2 linked regions of the Homo sapiens genome follow. The protein of the gene in region 2 interacts with the protein of the main gene of each other region in a pairwise test. Each region holds a gene or a part of one and is shown on either strand. Other genes may lie near its edges.

What was found. The genes of interacting proteins can lie anywhere in the genome.
Region 1: the proteins of VBP1 (region 2) and ZNF488 interact in binary tests that used the Homo sapiens proteins (3 or more experiments, as listed by UniProt).

Annotation. Positions count from the first base shown.
Region 1 is NC_000010.11:47,374,063-47,381,746, reverse strand, and holds part of ZNF488 (zinc finger protein 488), read left to right. Parts: intron 1-885; exon of another isoform or gene 886-2,239; intron 2,240-7,207; exon of another isoform or gene 7,208-7,286; intron 7,287-7,684. UniProt on the Homo sapiens protein: Transcriptional repressor. Plays a role in oligodendrocyte differentiation, together with OLIG2. Mediates Notch signaling-activated formation of oligodendrocyte precursors.
Region 2 is NC_000023.11:155,219,368-155,227,051, forward strand, and holds part of VBP1 (prefoldin subunit 3), read left to right. Parts: intron 1-815; coding exon 816-940; intron 941-7,684. UniProt on the Homo sapiens protein: Binds specifically to cytosolic chaperonin (c-CPN) and transfers target proteins to it. Binds to nascent polypeptide chain and promotes folding in an environment in which there are many competing pathways for nonnative proteins.

The sequences.
Region 1 (7,684 bases), on a different chromosome or scaffold from region 2:
GATCACATCCACCCCTATGAGGGTCGACGTGGCCAAGTTATGTTGCACTAGGGCCACTCTCCCTGCTTCCATGGGTACTGGCTGTGTTCGCAGTCTCCTGCACTTGGCTTTCCTCGAATGCAGCAGGCATTGCTGCTAGAGGGGTCCAGGCGTAGCTGGCCACAGAGCCTGTAGGGGCTGACCAGGAATTGCTCATCTCCCCAGTGCCACCAGCCAGCCTCTGGGAAAGCCTGGATCACCTTCAGTGTTTAATTTCCTCAGTGTGCCAGAGCCAGGAGGATTCCTGGAAACAGGTGTATTCCCTTTCTTAGGAAACCCCAGGACCTCACAATCCAAATGCAGAAAAGGCCCGTAGATGATTGTCCTCTGGAATCTTCCAAAAGGGTCTGGGAAGCTTCTGCAGAGACTAGGGATACCAAAGGATTAGAAGACAGGAGGTATTTTCTGCTCTTGTGTGTTTTAACTGAAGAGAAAAGCAGATGCAGCAAAGCACTGCTTGGGGGGAGCGGGTGGGGGTACATGGTGTCTCTGAATAAGATCTGGTGCCTGACCTGCAGCTCAGAACAGCTTGAGGCTGGCCAGTTGGCTTGGGTTAGGGAGTGACTTCAGACATCCCAGGAAAAAGAGGTTATCCAGATGTTTGCCAAGAGTTCTTTCTTCTGTAGGTGGAGCAGGAAGGAGAAAAATGCCCAGGCTGTTTGGTCATTTATTAAACACTGTTATGCACTGGTCCCTGAGAGCTCAGGAGTAATGGGAAGGCTGCCATGGAGTGGACTCTGTCCCTTTGCACTCAGTGCGATAAGAAGTGATACCCCTAATGTTTACTGAGCCAGGTTCCTTAGCACTTTCTCTATATTAATCCTTCTAATCTTTCCCACAACCCAGTGAAGAAAACACCAAGGTGACCCTCTTTATAGATCAGAAAACAGGCCTGGAGGGGACCCACGCCTTGCCCAAGGTCACAGGTTGGATACAGCAGAGCTGGCCTCCAACCGTGGAGCCCGTGCACTTAACATCTATTTGGATGGAAGGCTCGAAGGTTACCTGAGACAACCTGGTCAAGGTGATAATGTGGGAGAATGTGGCCAGTGGTTCCCAGATGAGTGAATGATCAGTGTGCAGTCACCAGAGGATGGGTGATAAACCGAGAACCACAAGCTCTTAACACTGTGGGGTGGGCGAGGCTTCATCTCCCAGGATGCAGCACTTGCTGAGTTGGGCAACAGGGGACCCTGGTTGATGGCCCAGGTTGGTTGGAAGCCTTTGGGAGATGTGCTCTGTGTTGGTGGGGAAGGCCAGGCATGGTTAGATCCCCTGTAGACTTGGGGAGCTCAGTTTCAGAAAGTTTCAAAGATCATCACTTGATTTCTGTGATTCACGTGATCTGAGGGCTCTGAAAGTGGTGGGTGAGTCCTGGAATTAAATCTGTTTTTTTCAAGTAGGAAAGACATGGGGTGGCAATGAGAGACATCTGTGTGGCTCAGAAAGATGTCTTGCTGAGGTCAGAGGGACAAGAGCCAAGGAGAACAAGAGGAGCCCTTCCCAGGACACTCACAATGACAGAGTGACGAGGGCCAGTAAAGAGTGTCAGGGGGTGAGAGCCCGGGTGTGAACTGAACCTACTGAGGAGAGCTGACGACCACAAAGCATCTTTTCATATCATGTTCGGAGCAAGGAGAACAAGGGCTTCATAGATCCATCGCCGTCTAGGGCAGCTGGTGTCTGTGAAGGGGAGGAAGGCACAGCTCCACTGTGCCCACAGCGGTCTGGACAGAGGAGGATCTGCAGGTGCAAAGGGCGCAGGCAGGTTCCCGGAGGAAAGCAGGAGCCACGTAGCGTGGGCTGCAGTGTGTGTGCTCAGGGCTCTGACCAAGAGAATGCCCTGGCCAGGGTATAGCATGACCTGGAATGAGATACCCCCATCTGAGGTGCTGTCTGAGAGGTGTTGGAAATGAAGCCCGGAGGTGGAAGAGACTCAAATCTGATGTTGGCCCTGGGAAAGATCCTAGACTAAGAAGAAGGCTGTGAGTCTGTGGGCAAAGGAGAGACGTGCATGAGGAGCTGGCGGGGGCTCCCTGGGGACAAGTCATGCCAGCCTCACGTCATTTTCCACCTTGCAGGTCTTCGGTCTGGCCCTTGTTCTGTTGGGGTTCTGGAGGACGTGCTGTGCCCTGGCCTTACTGACCTTACTCCATGCAGTGCTGATGCATGCGACAGCGGTGACCCTCCAGGGTCCCAGGTGGGATGAAAGGTCCCCAGCTAGTTCCTAGTTTCATCTCCTCATTTTCTCCATCCTCCTGCTCCTTCTTATTAAGATCTGGATGTTAACATTGATGGAGTGTGAAGCTGGGTGGGATATTTAATTCAGCAGTTGGCGGTGTCAGGATCCACAGTGGTCTCTGAAAGCTGAGATGCTGCCCTGAGTTTATCGGGATGGCATTTGGCAGATTGGAGATAAGTGCATCTGAATTGAGACACATAGCTTCCCTCATATGGTTTTTATGAAAATGAAATGAACAAGGTGCCTTATTTCATTTGTTAATACTATTGTTTGTCATGTAGATACTTACGTAGCCGATAAATGGTAACTTCTATTCTGATACCCTGAAGCATCCTGATAGCAAATGTTCCATCCTGCTGTAAAGGAGAACTGGTTTCTTCCAATTAGTCATACATGAGTAGGTCTGGGATGGCCTGGAGAGACAGCTTAGCCAGAGCGCATTTTACAGATGGAAACCTGAGGCTCAGAGAGGTTGAGTGCTTTGCTCGGGAACACAGAGAGGAGTGATGTTTCTGCCTCTGCCTCTTTGGGAGACACTGGCCGACATTCACCTCTGACGTCAGGCACCCCCTCTGAGGAATCCACTCAAAAAGGGCATCAGGAGTGGTGTGGAGCCTGCTGCACCACGTGGTTTGCGTCCTCTTCATGAAGTCACACGGGGTGGTCTGCAGGGCAAGGCGGGGTGGCGATGTTCCACAGGAGCTAGTCAAAAGCTTGTGACAAAAGGGAACGTGAGGTTTTATGTTCACTTTTCTTGCTTTCTCTCTGATTTATCCCATGCTTTCACTCCATGAGAGGGTTGGGCTCTCTGTCTCATCTCCTTGAGAGCTCCTGCAGGAAGTGGCTGGACGCAGGTACATCCTTTCATGGCTGGGCGGGAAGCAGGGAGAGGAAGAAGCTGATTTGGCCCAGGCTATATTTATGCATAGCAAGCCATGGAGGCTCTCATCCACTCCTAGATTCTCCCTGAGCCCTGGGATAAATATTTTCTAAGGATGAGAATTCTGGAATGCTGAGTGGAGTCTGGTTCTGCCAGTACCTCTCACCAGTGGAGGGGGCACTTGAAGAGCTTGAGTTCTAGTTTCCAGAACTTGAGGGTGGGGCTGGTGAGAGCGGGTAGGGATGAAGGCATCCCAGCAGGGCTGATACCACCTCCCCATGGGTGCCACCTTTACATGTGGTCAGTGCATGTCTTCCCTTCCACACCGTGGGCACTTCCAGGGTGAGGCTGAAAGCTGGTCCATCCATGGAGGTCCAGTTTGGCACAGGCAGGCAGTTCGCGAAGCTCTGCCAGGGGAGCAGAGAAGCGAGTGGATCCATGTGTGGGGAGAACCAAGAGTGAGCACTTCTGGCGAGTGGAGATGAGGTTACACATGCTCTCTCTAGGGGCAGGGCCAGGTGGTGGGGTGGCAGCCCCTTAGTGTGGGGGTGGGGGCCAGGCACAGCCAGACCCATCCTGCCAAGCCTGCATGTGCATTGCTCCAACTTTTGTCCTTCTGTGCACCTATGCCTACAGATCCCCTGTCCCCAGGTGCCTGAAGTGGCCTGGCACTCCTGAGGGTCAGGAGAAAAAATGAGTATGGCAACCAGCAAGGAAGGAAAACTGCCCTCAACCAGGGTGCAAACACAGTCGAATTAAGTCAGAGCTGGCAGGCAGAAGCCCTGTGTGCTCTGTGAATGTGGCAGCTGCTGCTAGATGCTGACAGGTGCAGGGGCAGGGCTGAGCCGGCGCCTCCGGGTGGCAGCCGTGTGTGTGTGTGTGTGTGTGTGTGTGTGTGTGTGTGTGTGTGTGTGATTGTTATTGCTGGCTCCTCTGGGTGGCAGCCATGTGTGTGTGTGTGTGTGTGTGTGTGTGTGTGTGTGTGAGATTGTTATTGCCGGCATCTCTGGGTGGCAGCTGTGTGTGTGTGTGAGTGTCTGTGTTTGATTGTTATTGTTCTGTGAGAGAGTCCTGGAGGTATAGTGCTCTGAGCTGAGGTGAGTTGTCACATCCATAGCAATCAGGATTCTTTGGATGCAAACCACAGCGATGGACTCTGGCCAACTTTGTGAAGAAGGAATTAATTAGAAGGTTATGGTGGCAGGTAGATCACAGTGTCAGAGGAAGAACTGGAGAAATAAGCTCAAAAAAGACCGGGATTGAGCTATTCAGAGAGTTCCAGTACCAGGCACACATAAGCAGCTTCTCAAACTGAAACTGGGTTTGGTTAGGAAGGATGCTGAGTAGCATAAAACAGAACCAAGCCATCTGACTGCTCTTGTCGTAGAGATCGCGTATTCCTCCTTTCCTGTCAGCTGGTTTAAAAACCTGGGGCAAAGGGGGACCCTGCAGTCCACCCCACTCTTCCTGAGATGCCCTGCGGGGGTTGCAGAGATAGATCAAACACAGGCTGTCTCTCCCCAGGGACCAACAGTCCAGTAGGTGATAGCGGCAACACTGACTATGGCCAGGCAGGCTGCTGAAGGTGGTCTCTGCAACCCGAGTCAGCATGGCAGCCCTGACGGTGTTTTGGTGTGAGCAGCTCGCAGATGCAGCCCAGTTGTTTTGCTTTCTGGGCTGCTTCTTGAGGGTCACCTCAAGTCTGCACACAAGGGTAGAGCTGCAAGCTCTGGAGGGAAATAGCACTGGGTTATAATTTCCACTGGAGGACATCTATAATTTCATGTCTCTGAGTGTGAGTTTGGCCACAGGCTCCTCTGTAGGTGTCTGCACGGGAACCAGTGAGGACCCTCAGGCTTGAGCCCCCATTCTGCTGGATCTGGTGGTCTGGAAGGCTGGGCATAGTGTGACTGCCTCAGCCCCTCCATTTGTGCTAGGGCTGGGGGAGAAGGAGGATGGGGTGGGGAGTTCTCTGACTTTGCACGGTGGGAGTACACCCTTCTTGGAGGATATGAGTGCAAATGGATGTCAAGGAGCCCAGAGCTCTTCAGAGCAAAGAGCTGGGCAAATTCCTGGCTCCCACTCTAACTCTCTCTCCTTATTCTCCCATACCTCCCTCGGCAGGGTTGAATTTCACAATTGGGTCTGACCTGGCTTAGTGTGAATGAAAAGTGGTCGTTTACAGGAATCCTCTCTGTCTCGCTGAATTCCTGCCCCTCAGTCTTTTCCTCACGATTGAAATATACCCAGCCCTTCTTTTCCACTAGGACTTTGCCTGTGCCATCTTACCATCCCTGATTGGTGAACTCGTATTCATCCATCAACACCCAGAGATAATATCACCTCCTCAATGGGACATTCCTCAGGCACCCCAGGCAGTCCATGGTCCATCCCTGATCTTGAAGCATTTCTCCCAAACCACTCAAGTGGGCTTGTCTCCATCCCAGGTCCTGTTACGAAGAGGTGTTTTTCTCTCTCATTGCATGTGGAGCAATACTTCCATGCTATTCATCCTGTTATCACAGAATAAAAGAACGACTGTCTCCCCTAAGAGATATGGTGTGGGTCCCTGTGGCTAGACCATGTGATCTTACCCATAAACAGTCCTCACAAACACTCTCGATTTACGTCTAACCCACTCTTGTCACTGCCTGGCATTCGCGTGTGCCGTTCTTTCTGCCCTCTCTTTTCTTTGTATCTGTCTGCCCTTTGGAGGCCTCCTGCCTCTTCCAGGAGGGTCTCTCTGATTATTCTGGTGCCCAGAATTAGAAAGTATATGGGGTACATGCTGTGGTGTGTGGTAAGTGTTTAACAGCTGGTTCTCAGCATGTAGCTGCAACATGGATTTTGGGTGATATTTTCATTTACAATAAAGTGTAAGATGAAAGTGGAACAATGAACATATGTCAGAACTTCACTTGTTTGTCAGTGATCTAAATAACTTCTTTCCTAAATCACATAATAGTTTCGGAATACTAGAAGAATAGTCCCTCAGCTTTTTGTGAGCTATTCACAATATAACAGCTATCGACAAGACAAAAATTTCAGTTTAATCTGCATTATTGACAATTTTTTTCCATTACTTTCTTAAGTCCAGACAATGAACAAAACAAGAAATCAAGCCTTGATTTATAGCATTTCCATAAATAATCCCATTCTGGCTGATTCCCTGATTTCTGGCCACTCACGATATCCCTGGATGTGGCATGAGGAGGAGTGGACCGTGGCAAGCCCCCGCACCGGCAGGTGGAGCAGCGTCCACAGCGTAGGCAATGGGAATGTGTAGTAGAATGACTAGGAAATGATGGGTTCTGAGTATGTATTGCCTGTGTTTTTAATATAACTTCTTTGACTGTAAGTTTGTATAGTTTAGTTTTGAATAATGTCTGAGTTAAAACAGCTAACTTGAAACATTCCTGATCATCTCACAAGCCACTGTGAGCTGGCTCCAGCACACCACTGGCTGCATACCAAGAAAATCAAGTTGCAGGCAGAGACGAAAACCTTCAGACAGAATTGCGTGGCTGTGTCCACTCAGTTTCGTCAGGGGGTGAGCTTTATTAAGTGCCACAGTAACAGATACTGTCATTGGTTCAGTCAACAACTGTTTCTAACCCCATCTCACTTGGCTTTCCTGCACTGCAGAGGTTGGGAAGCTAAATCCATGTTTCCCAGACTCTTTTGCAGCCAGGGTGCAGGCCTTTGACACAGATCCTCACAAGCAGCCAGATACATCACCCAGCCCCGGATGTGCAGTCGAGTCCCATGAGCTGAAGTCTTTGGCATGCAGGTGATATCTGTCACTCACGGTGGCAGGGACATCTGGACTTGTGGGGTGGCTGTGGTGGACTTTGTAGGAGTTTGGTCCCTTGTGATTGGTGCTGGTACCAGCAGTTTCTACTAGACAGTGCCAGGGCATGGTTAGGCTTTTTTTTCTGGCTACCCTGACCCTTGGAGAGCTCCCAAGCTTGGTCTCTGGCTCTCACAGGGATTTAATGAGCTGCATGATAGCCTTTAATAAGTTCCTTTCTGTTTAAACTACCCAGGTAGAGGCTGCTGTCTGCAGGTGGGAAGCCCTGATTGCTGGAACCTAAGGGATGTGAGAAATCACTGTGGAGTGTCAAGGTAACCAGGGATCTGCTCCTGGGACCTATTAATCCACCTCTTTTAGAAGGAGTCCACAGTCCTGTTTGTATTTGAATATTCATGAACATTAGAAGAGCAACTTAGTCTGGGTATGGCTATGGCTGACAGAAGTATCATGCTGTGTCACAGCTGATTATTAGATCTGCATTTTTTGCCCTTTAGCTTGTCAAAATAATGTCTAAAAAACCAGATTGATCACAAAAGATGCATCATAATGCCACATAAAGATGTCACTCGGCGCCTTATAGTATTTAGGACCATAGAGGACACCTGGTGCAGCCTCCTCATTTTGCAGCTGAGCAAGATCTTTGAAGGACAAGGACCTGCCCAAGGCCATCTAGAAACACTGAAGTTGAGACTCATACCCGAGCATCTTA
Region 2 (7,684 bases):
ATATTTTAACATCAGTTTTACTGCTTTTCTTTTGATCAGTTATTACTGTTACAAAAGATTATTCTGTTTGCCTTTTAGGTTTACTTTGTTTCAGTTATTTGATACTGAAGGAAGCATTTGTGGATTGCCTTGGGAACCCAGTAACCATATTTAGTATGATTTCTATGGTAAAACTTGTTGAATTAAAAATAAGTAATAAAATTGATAATCTTGACATGCAACCTGTAAAATCATTTTGTGAATAGGATGCATGAATAGGCAATGTATTTGATTGTTAGTTTCATATTTACTACTAGGGATGCATGGGAAATGCATAAAGTGGTGGGCAAGGTCATTCTTCTTTTCCTATTTTTGAATAAAAAATGAAGAGGAAAGTGAAAGAATAAATTAGCTATATAATATATATGTACCATCTGAAATTGTCTCTAACTTTTTATAACTACAGGTTGAGCATCCTAAATCTGAAAATCTGAAATCCAGAATGCTCTAAAATCCAAAACTTTTTGAACACCAATATAGTGCTCAAAGGAAATGCTCATTGGAGCATTTTGGACTTTGGATTTTTGGATTGAGGATGCTCAACTGGTATAATGTAAATATTCCAAAATCTAAAAAAAAAAAAAAAATCTAAAATCCAAAACAATTCTGGTCCCAAGCATTTTAGATAAGGGTGCTTAACCTGTACTTTTAGTTAAAAACAAACCTTTGGAGAAAAACAAAGCTTTTTTTTCTTCTATGTTTTAAAAACAAAGCAGTCAAAAAATCTGAGTGGCATGAATTCTAAAATTTGTAAAGTATTATTTTTGATATTAAAGGAAGATGTAGATTCCTTCATGAAACAGCCTGGGAATGAGACTGCAGATACAGTATTAAAGAAGCTGGATGAACAGTACCAGAAGTATAAGTTTATGGAACTCAACCTTGCTCAAAAGAAAAGAAGGTAAGTGTAAAAATTTCTAAGTTTTGAAAATCTTATATGACTTGAACTTTTAAAAAATTGAGATATAATTTACATATAATAAAATATTCAGATGTCAAGTGTTCAGTCCTCCAAGGTGGCTGTACCATATGAAATTCCCACCAGCAACGTACAAGAGTTCCAGTTGTTCCGTATCCTTGCCAACACTTGGTATTGCCAGTCTAAATGTGGTTTTGAAAACATAATAGAATGGTTGTTAAAGACTGTATTCCAAAGCTTTCAAAATCATAACGTCTTATATGTCTAGTTCATCCTTCTAATTTTGCCAGTGAGATTAGAGACCCACAGAGTCTGGGCATAAGACTTAATTAGTTATGAAATCCCAAGATTTCATAACTAATAGGCATAGGAAAAAAGCTATCCTTACTCTCAACTCTTTATTTCCCTACATTATTTTATATAGCTTATAAAGTCAATTCACTGTAATAAATATTTATAGATCTCTGTTTTGTGCATGTGCCAGCATTCTTCTGTAAGATAAATATTTATGGAATGCCAGCTAGATGCCACATACTGTTTTGGGTGAAATAACATCCAGTATCTGCTTTCAACAAGGACACAGGACTGGGCATGGTGGCTCAAACCTGTAATTCCAGCACTTTGGGAGGCTGAGGTGGGAGGATCACTTCAGTCCAGGAGTTCAAGACTAGCCTGGGCAACATAGGGAGACCCCCGTCTCTACAAATAATTAAAAAATAATTAGGCTGGGCCCGGCGGCTCGCACCTGTAATCCCAGCACTTTGGGAGGCTGAGGTGGGCAGATTGCCTGAGCTCAGGAGTTTGAAACCACCCTGGGCAACATGGTGAAACCCCGTCTCTACTAAAATACAAATAAATTAGCCAGACGTGGTGGCATGCGCTTGTAATCCCAGCTACTCGGGAGGCTGAGTTGGGAGAATTGCTTGAGCCCGGGAGGCGAAGGTTGTAGTGAGCCGAGATTGTGCCACTGCACTCCAGCCTGGGCAACAGAGTGAGACTCCATCTCAAAAATAATAATAGTAATAATTAGCTGGGTATGGTGGCATGCATCTGTGGTCACAGCTCCTCTAGAGGCTGAGGTGGGAGGATCGCCTGAACCCAGGACGTTGAGGCTGCAGTGAGATGTGATCATGCCCCTGCACTCCAGCCTCGGCAAAAGTGCGAGACCCAGTCTAAAAAGCAAACAAACCACACAAAAAACTAGGGACACAGTTTGGTGGAAATTATAGGTATATAAATAAAATTAGCACACAAAGTAGAACAGTAGAGGTACAGGGGGATGGTAACTCATTACTTTGTACCAAAGCACCTCATTAACCTGGAGGGGCCAAGGAGGTTCAGAGGAAGCTTCTAAGAGGAACAGATAGCTGTGTAGAATTTCAAAGATTAGTTGTGAGTTTGGAGGCAGACTAAAGTGAGGAAGGGGTAGTCTGGGCCTAAGGCACCATTTATGCAAAGGTACAGAAGTTTGTAGGTATATTTTCTCATTTGATTTTGGTGACAGTTGTACAAAGTTGAATATGTACTGAGTATTAGATGAGATGAAAAGTCATTGACATGGAAAGATGGAGAGTGTTAATGGACAGAAGCAAGATAGAAAACATTAAGAACAGTGTGCTCTCGTTTTGGAAAAAAATGTATGTATGCACAGGAATATCTGGAGAAATCCACACTAAAGGCATATTAACAGTGGTAATCTCTGGGTAGTTAGAATATGGCATTTTTCTTGTTTTTGCTTAGCTGTTTTCTTAATTTTTTACAATGTACATGTACTGCTTTTGTGATAGTAAAAGTTTATTTGAAAAAGAAAAATAAAGCCATTGGATTTGAGATCACCTACAGGGAGGTTACAGATAGAGAAGAAAATGTGCCTTGGGGCGGGGTGCAGTGGTTCATGCCTGTAATCCCAGCACTTTGGGAGGCCAAGGTGGGCGGATCGCTTGAGCCCAGGAGTTCAAGACCAGTGTGGGCAACGTGGCAAAACCCTATATCTACAAAAATTAGCTAGGTGTTGTGGTGCATGCCTGTAGTTCCAGCTACTAGGGAAGCTGAGGTGAGAGTATTGCTTAAGCCAGGGAGGTTGAGGCTGCAGTCAGCTGTGAGTGTGCCACTGCACTCCAGCCTGGGCAACAGAGTGATGATACCCCGTCTCAAGAAAGAAAAAAAGGAAAAGAAAATGGGCCTTGGGACCAAGTCCTGGGAGAGGGGGAAATTTGCGTATCAAACTTAAATTGCTCTTCTAACTAGTAAATTAATGATAGACAAAAACAAAAAAAAGAAAAAAGTTATATTGCTAACTCTACAACTGTGGTATGTAGCAGGATACTCACTCTAGCTTAACATATGGTCTAGGCCTAAATGTGGGGAGAAGGGGTAAAAATTCAAAGCACTTAGGAAACATCAGTGAACGTTGGTGTTCTGGATGAGAACAGTGTTTGTCTAGTGTTTTAAAAGAGAATGGTAGAGTTGGAGATAGTGAGTTAGGAAAATTTTCTTGAGTTTTACCTATTTTAATAGTGGGTTGGTCATTTTTTTGAGACAGGCTTTCTCTCTGTTGCCCAGGCCAGAGTGCGGTGGTGTGATCACAGCTCACTGCAGCCTTGACCTCCTGGGTTCAAGCAATTCTTCCATCTCAGCCTCCCAAGTAGTTGGAGGGCTACTTTTCTCTTTTTATTTTTCTGGAATTTCTCTCACTCCTATGATGTCAGCTATGCAACAAAACTATTTTTGTGTCATGATCTAGTTGTTTTGCAGCAGATGGCTCTATGTAGTTTACATGCTAGCCTTTTTGTTTTTTTTTTTTTTCAATTTGCTATTATTTTATTTAGGATTTTTGAATTTCTGTTCATAAGTGAGTTCAGCCTATTTCTTTCTTTTTTTAATTTTTTTAGTATTGATCATTCTTGGGTGTTTCTCGGAGAGGGGGATTTGGCAGGGTCATAGGACAATAGTGGAGGGAAGGTCAGCAGGTAAACATGTGAACAAAGGTCTCTGGTTTTCCTAGGCAGAGGGCCCTGCCGCCTTCCGCAGTGTTTGTGTCCCTGGGTACTTGAGATTAGGGAGTGGTGATGACTCTTAACGAGCATGCTGCCTTCAAGCATGTGTTTAACAAAGCACATCTTGCACCGCCCTTAATCCATTTAACCCTGAGTGGACACAGCACATGTTTCAGAGAGCACGGGGTTGGGGGTAAGGTTATAGATTAACAGCATCCCAAGGCAGAAGAATTTTTCCTAGTACAGAACAAAATGGAGTCTCCCATGTCCACCTCTTTCCACACAGACACAGCAACAATCTGATCTCTCCTTCCTTTCCCCACATTTCCCCCTTCTCTATTCGACAAAACCTCCATCGTCATCATGGCCCGTTCTCAACGAGCTGTTGGGTACACCTCCCAGACGGGGTGGCGGCCGGGCAGAGGGGCTCCTCACTTCCCAGACGGGGCGGCCGGGCAGAGGCACCCCCCCACCTCCCGGACGGGGCGGCTGGCCGGGCGGGGGCTGCCCCCCACCTGCCGGACGGGGCGGCTGCCAGGCGGAGGGGCTCCTCACTTCTCAGATGGGGCGGCTGCCGGGCGGAGGGGCTCCTCACCTCTCAGACGGGGTGGCTGGTCAGAGACGCTCCTCACCTCCCAGACGGGGTGGCGGCGGGGCAGAGGTGCTCTTCACATCTCAGACGGGGTGGCTGGGCAGAGGCGCTCCCCACATCTCAGAGGATGGGCGGCCGGGCAGAGACGCTCCTCACTTCCTAGACGGGATGACGGCCTGGAAGAGGCGCTCCTCACTTCCCAGAGTGGGCGGCCGGGCAGAGGGGCTCCTCACATCCCAGACGATGGGCGGCCAGGCAGAGACGCTCCTCACTTCCCAGATGGGGTGGCGGCCGGGCAGAGGCTGCAATCTCGGCACTTTGGGAGGCCAAGGCAGGCGGCTGGGAGGTGGAGGTTGTAGCGAGCCGAGATCACGCCACTGCACTCCAGCCTGGGCACCATTGAGCACTGAGTGAGCGAGACTCCGTCTGCAATCCCGGCACCTCGGGAGGCCGAGGCTGGCAGATCACTCGCGGTCAGGAGCTGGAGACCAGCCCGGCCAACACAGCGAAACCCTGTCTCCACCAAAAAAATACGAAAACCAGTCAGGCGTGGTGGCGCGTGCCTGCAATCCCAGGCACTCGGCAGGCTGAGGCAGGAGAATCAGTCAGGGAGGTTGCAGTGAGTCGAGATGGCGGCAGTACAGTCCAGCCTCGGCTCGGCATCAGAGGGAGACCATGCAAAGAGGGCGAGGGCGAGGGTGAGGGTGAGGCTAGCCTTTTTCTTTGTATGTGTTGTAAATCTTGCAGCCTGTCATTTAACTTTACCCTTCAAGCTGTGTAAAAGTTCCTTAGTATTTCATGTGTTAATCTCTTTTTCGACACTTGAATCTGAGATCTTTTATCTTTCTTTAATTGGAAATTTTGTGATTATCACTTTTTCTATCGTCTGTTAATTTTTTTTCCTCTTTCTTTCTGGGATTCCTGTTTACAGATGTTGACACTTCTAATTCTGCCTTCCATTTATTTATATTATTTCCCTTTTTTCTGTCTTTGTCATTTATCTTTTGGCAATTAGATGGATAGCCATGAGTTCTTTGTTTCAGCTGTTAAGATTTTTATAGCTGGTAGTTCTGGTTGGTTCCTCTTCATATTACCAATATCCTTTCTTTTCTCTTTGTGGTATCTTTAAGTATTTAATGTATAGTTTTATCTTTTGGTATTTGTTAATTTTGTTTCATATGGTAGAGGTTGTTGAATTTATTGTCTTTATTTATTATAATGATCAAATTATAATGTCTTTTCCCTGTCAGCTTAGATTCCCTCAGGGATATCAGCTACTTTGGCCAGTAATGTACGTGGAGGTGGGGGTAATTTAAGTCACTCCTGGTGGGTAGCAGTGGCGCTACCTCGGCTCACTGCAACCTCCACCTCCTGGATTCAAGGGATCCTCCCGCCTCAACTTCCCAAGTAGCTGGGATTACAAGCATGCACCACCACGCCCAGCTAATTTTTTTGTATTTTTTTTTAGTAGAGACTGAGTTTCACCATGCTGGCCAGGCCGGTCTCGAACTCCTGGCCTCAGGTGATCCACCCGCTTCGGCCTCCCAAAGTGCTGGGATTACAGGCGTGAATCACTGTGCCCAGCCAAGCTACTTTCTCTTCAGGTGAAGCAGGGTAGGGAGGAGTGTATTGCTTGGGCATGTGCTGTGTCATTGGTGGTCTGGTTCCTAAGTTAGCTAGGGCTGCATCTGATTGATTCATTAATATGCTTTATAGCATATTACATATAATATTTATATATACAGAATGCATCTTAAAAGTCATTTACATGACAAAAAATCTTGATCTGAACATACTCCTTATGTTGTGTGTGTATCACATATTTTACAAATGTATAACATCTTTCTGTTTACCTATATGAACATATCATGCAAAAATAAGCAAACTTGAGCAATCTATGGCATCCAGATTGAATTGTAGTGAAAAAATGAATGCTAGGTGTTTCTAGATTATTCACTGGACTGTATTATCAAATGATGACACTATGTTTTTTTCTTAAGCAGCAGGCTCATTTAACACATTTCTTGCCAGGTCAGTAGCACAGGGTGTAGTAAATTTGCCCTGCCAACCTGCTGCACACATGGAGTGACTTCTTTTATGTGACGCAATAAGTTCATTTTCATTGTTGTGTTTATATTTTGTTTACATTTTGGTCTCTAATAATATTTAGTAAATTTACCTCGAAAGAACCAGAGCTTCGTTTTTATATCCTTAGTCTGTTTTGCTAGAAATTACATTTGACAGAGACCCTAGAACTGTTTTGCATATATCTCCATGCAAAACACATGCATCTAATTACCATAAAGAGCTAAACCCCAGTGACAAAAACGGTATCATTGTTTTCTCTCTTTAATTGACTGAATGTTTTTAGCATACTGTTTTTCTCTTATGTTCTTGTCAGTGAGGTTGATTGCATTTGGGAGTCACTTACTAGCATTTTGCTAGTAGCTATCATATAACTTATCCATTAAGTCGGATCAGTTGTATCATGTCCATCATTGTTTTTTTAAATTTCTTGTGTTTAAATCAGTGATCCATTTATAATTTTAAGAACGATCGTTACCTCATTTGAAAAGAAGAGCATTTATCAACATAAAAGTTAAGGAAGAAATACCCAAAGCTTAAAAGAATCACTAAATTATACTGTATCATAATGTGGTGTGTTTGGCATTCAGATGATTCTGTACATTTTTCACAGTGTGACAAGTGCACATACTGAGAAGGTGTCACTGTGCTTTGCCTGGCATTTAGCTGACTGTGATGTACATGTGTGTATACCCAATGCACACACCAGGAGTAGCTATGTGCATCACTGGATAGGGGATTGGTGTCTTCTATTTTAGAATGTAACTTTTGAATCCATGTTATTTTTAAAATTAGTTTTAAAATTAATCTATTTAAAATTTCATTCTAATCAAATGCAGAACCTATGAATCACCTCTGTGGAATATAGTCTGCTCTAGAAATGTTAAATAGCCATGGGGTATTTGACATAATAGAACAGAGCTTTGTCTTCATGGAATGGGCATTCCATAAACATTCACTAGTATATCTTAAATATTTTTATTAAGTATTTATACTTTAAATATTTTATGAATATTTTACTAAATATATTTTCTTTTGGTGAATATTTCTTTA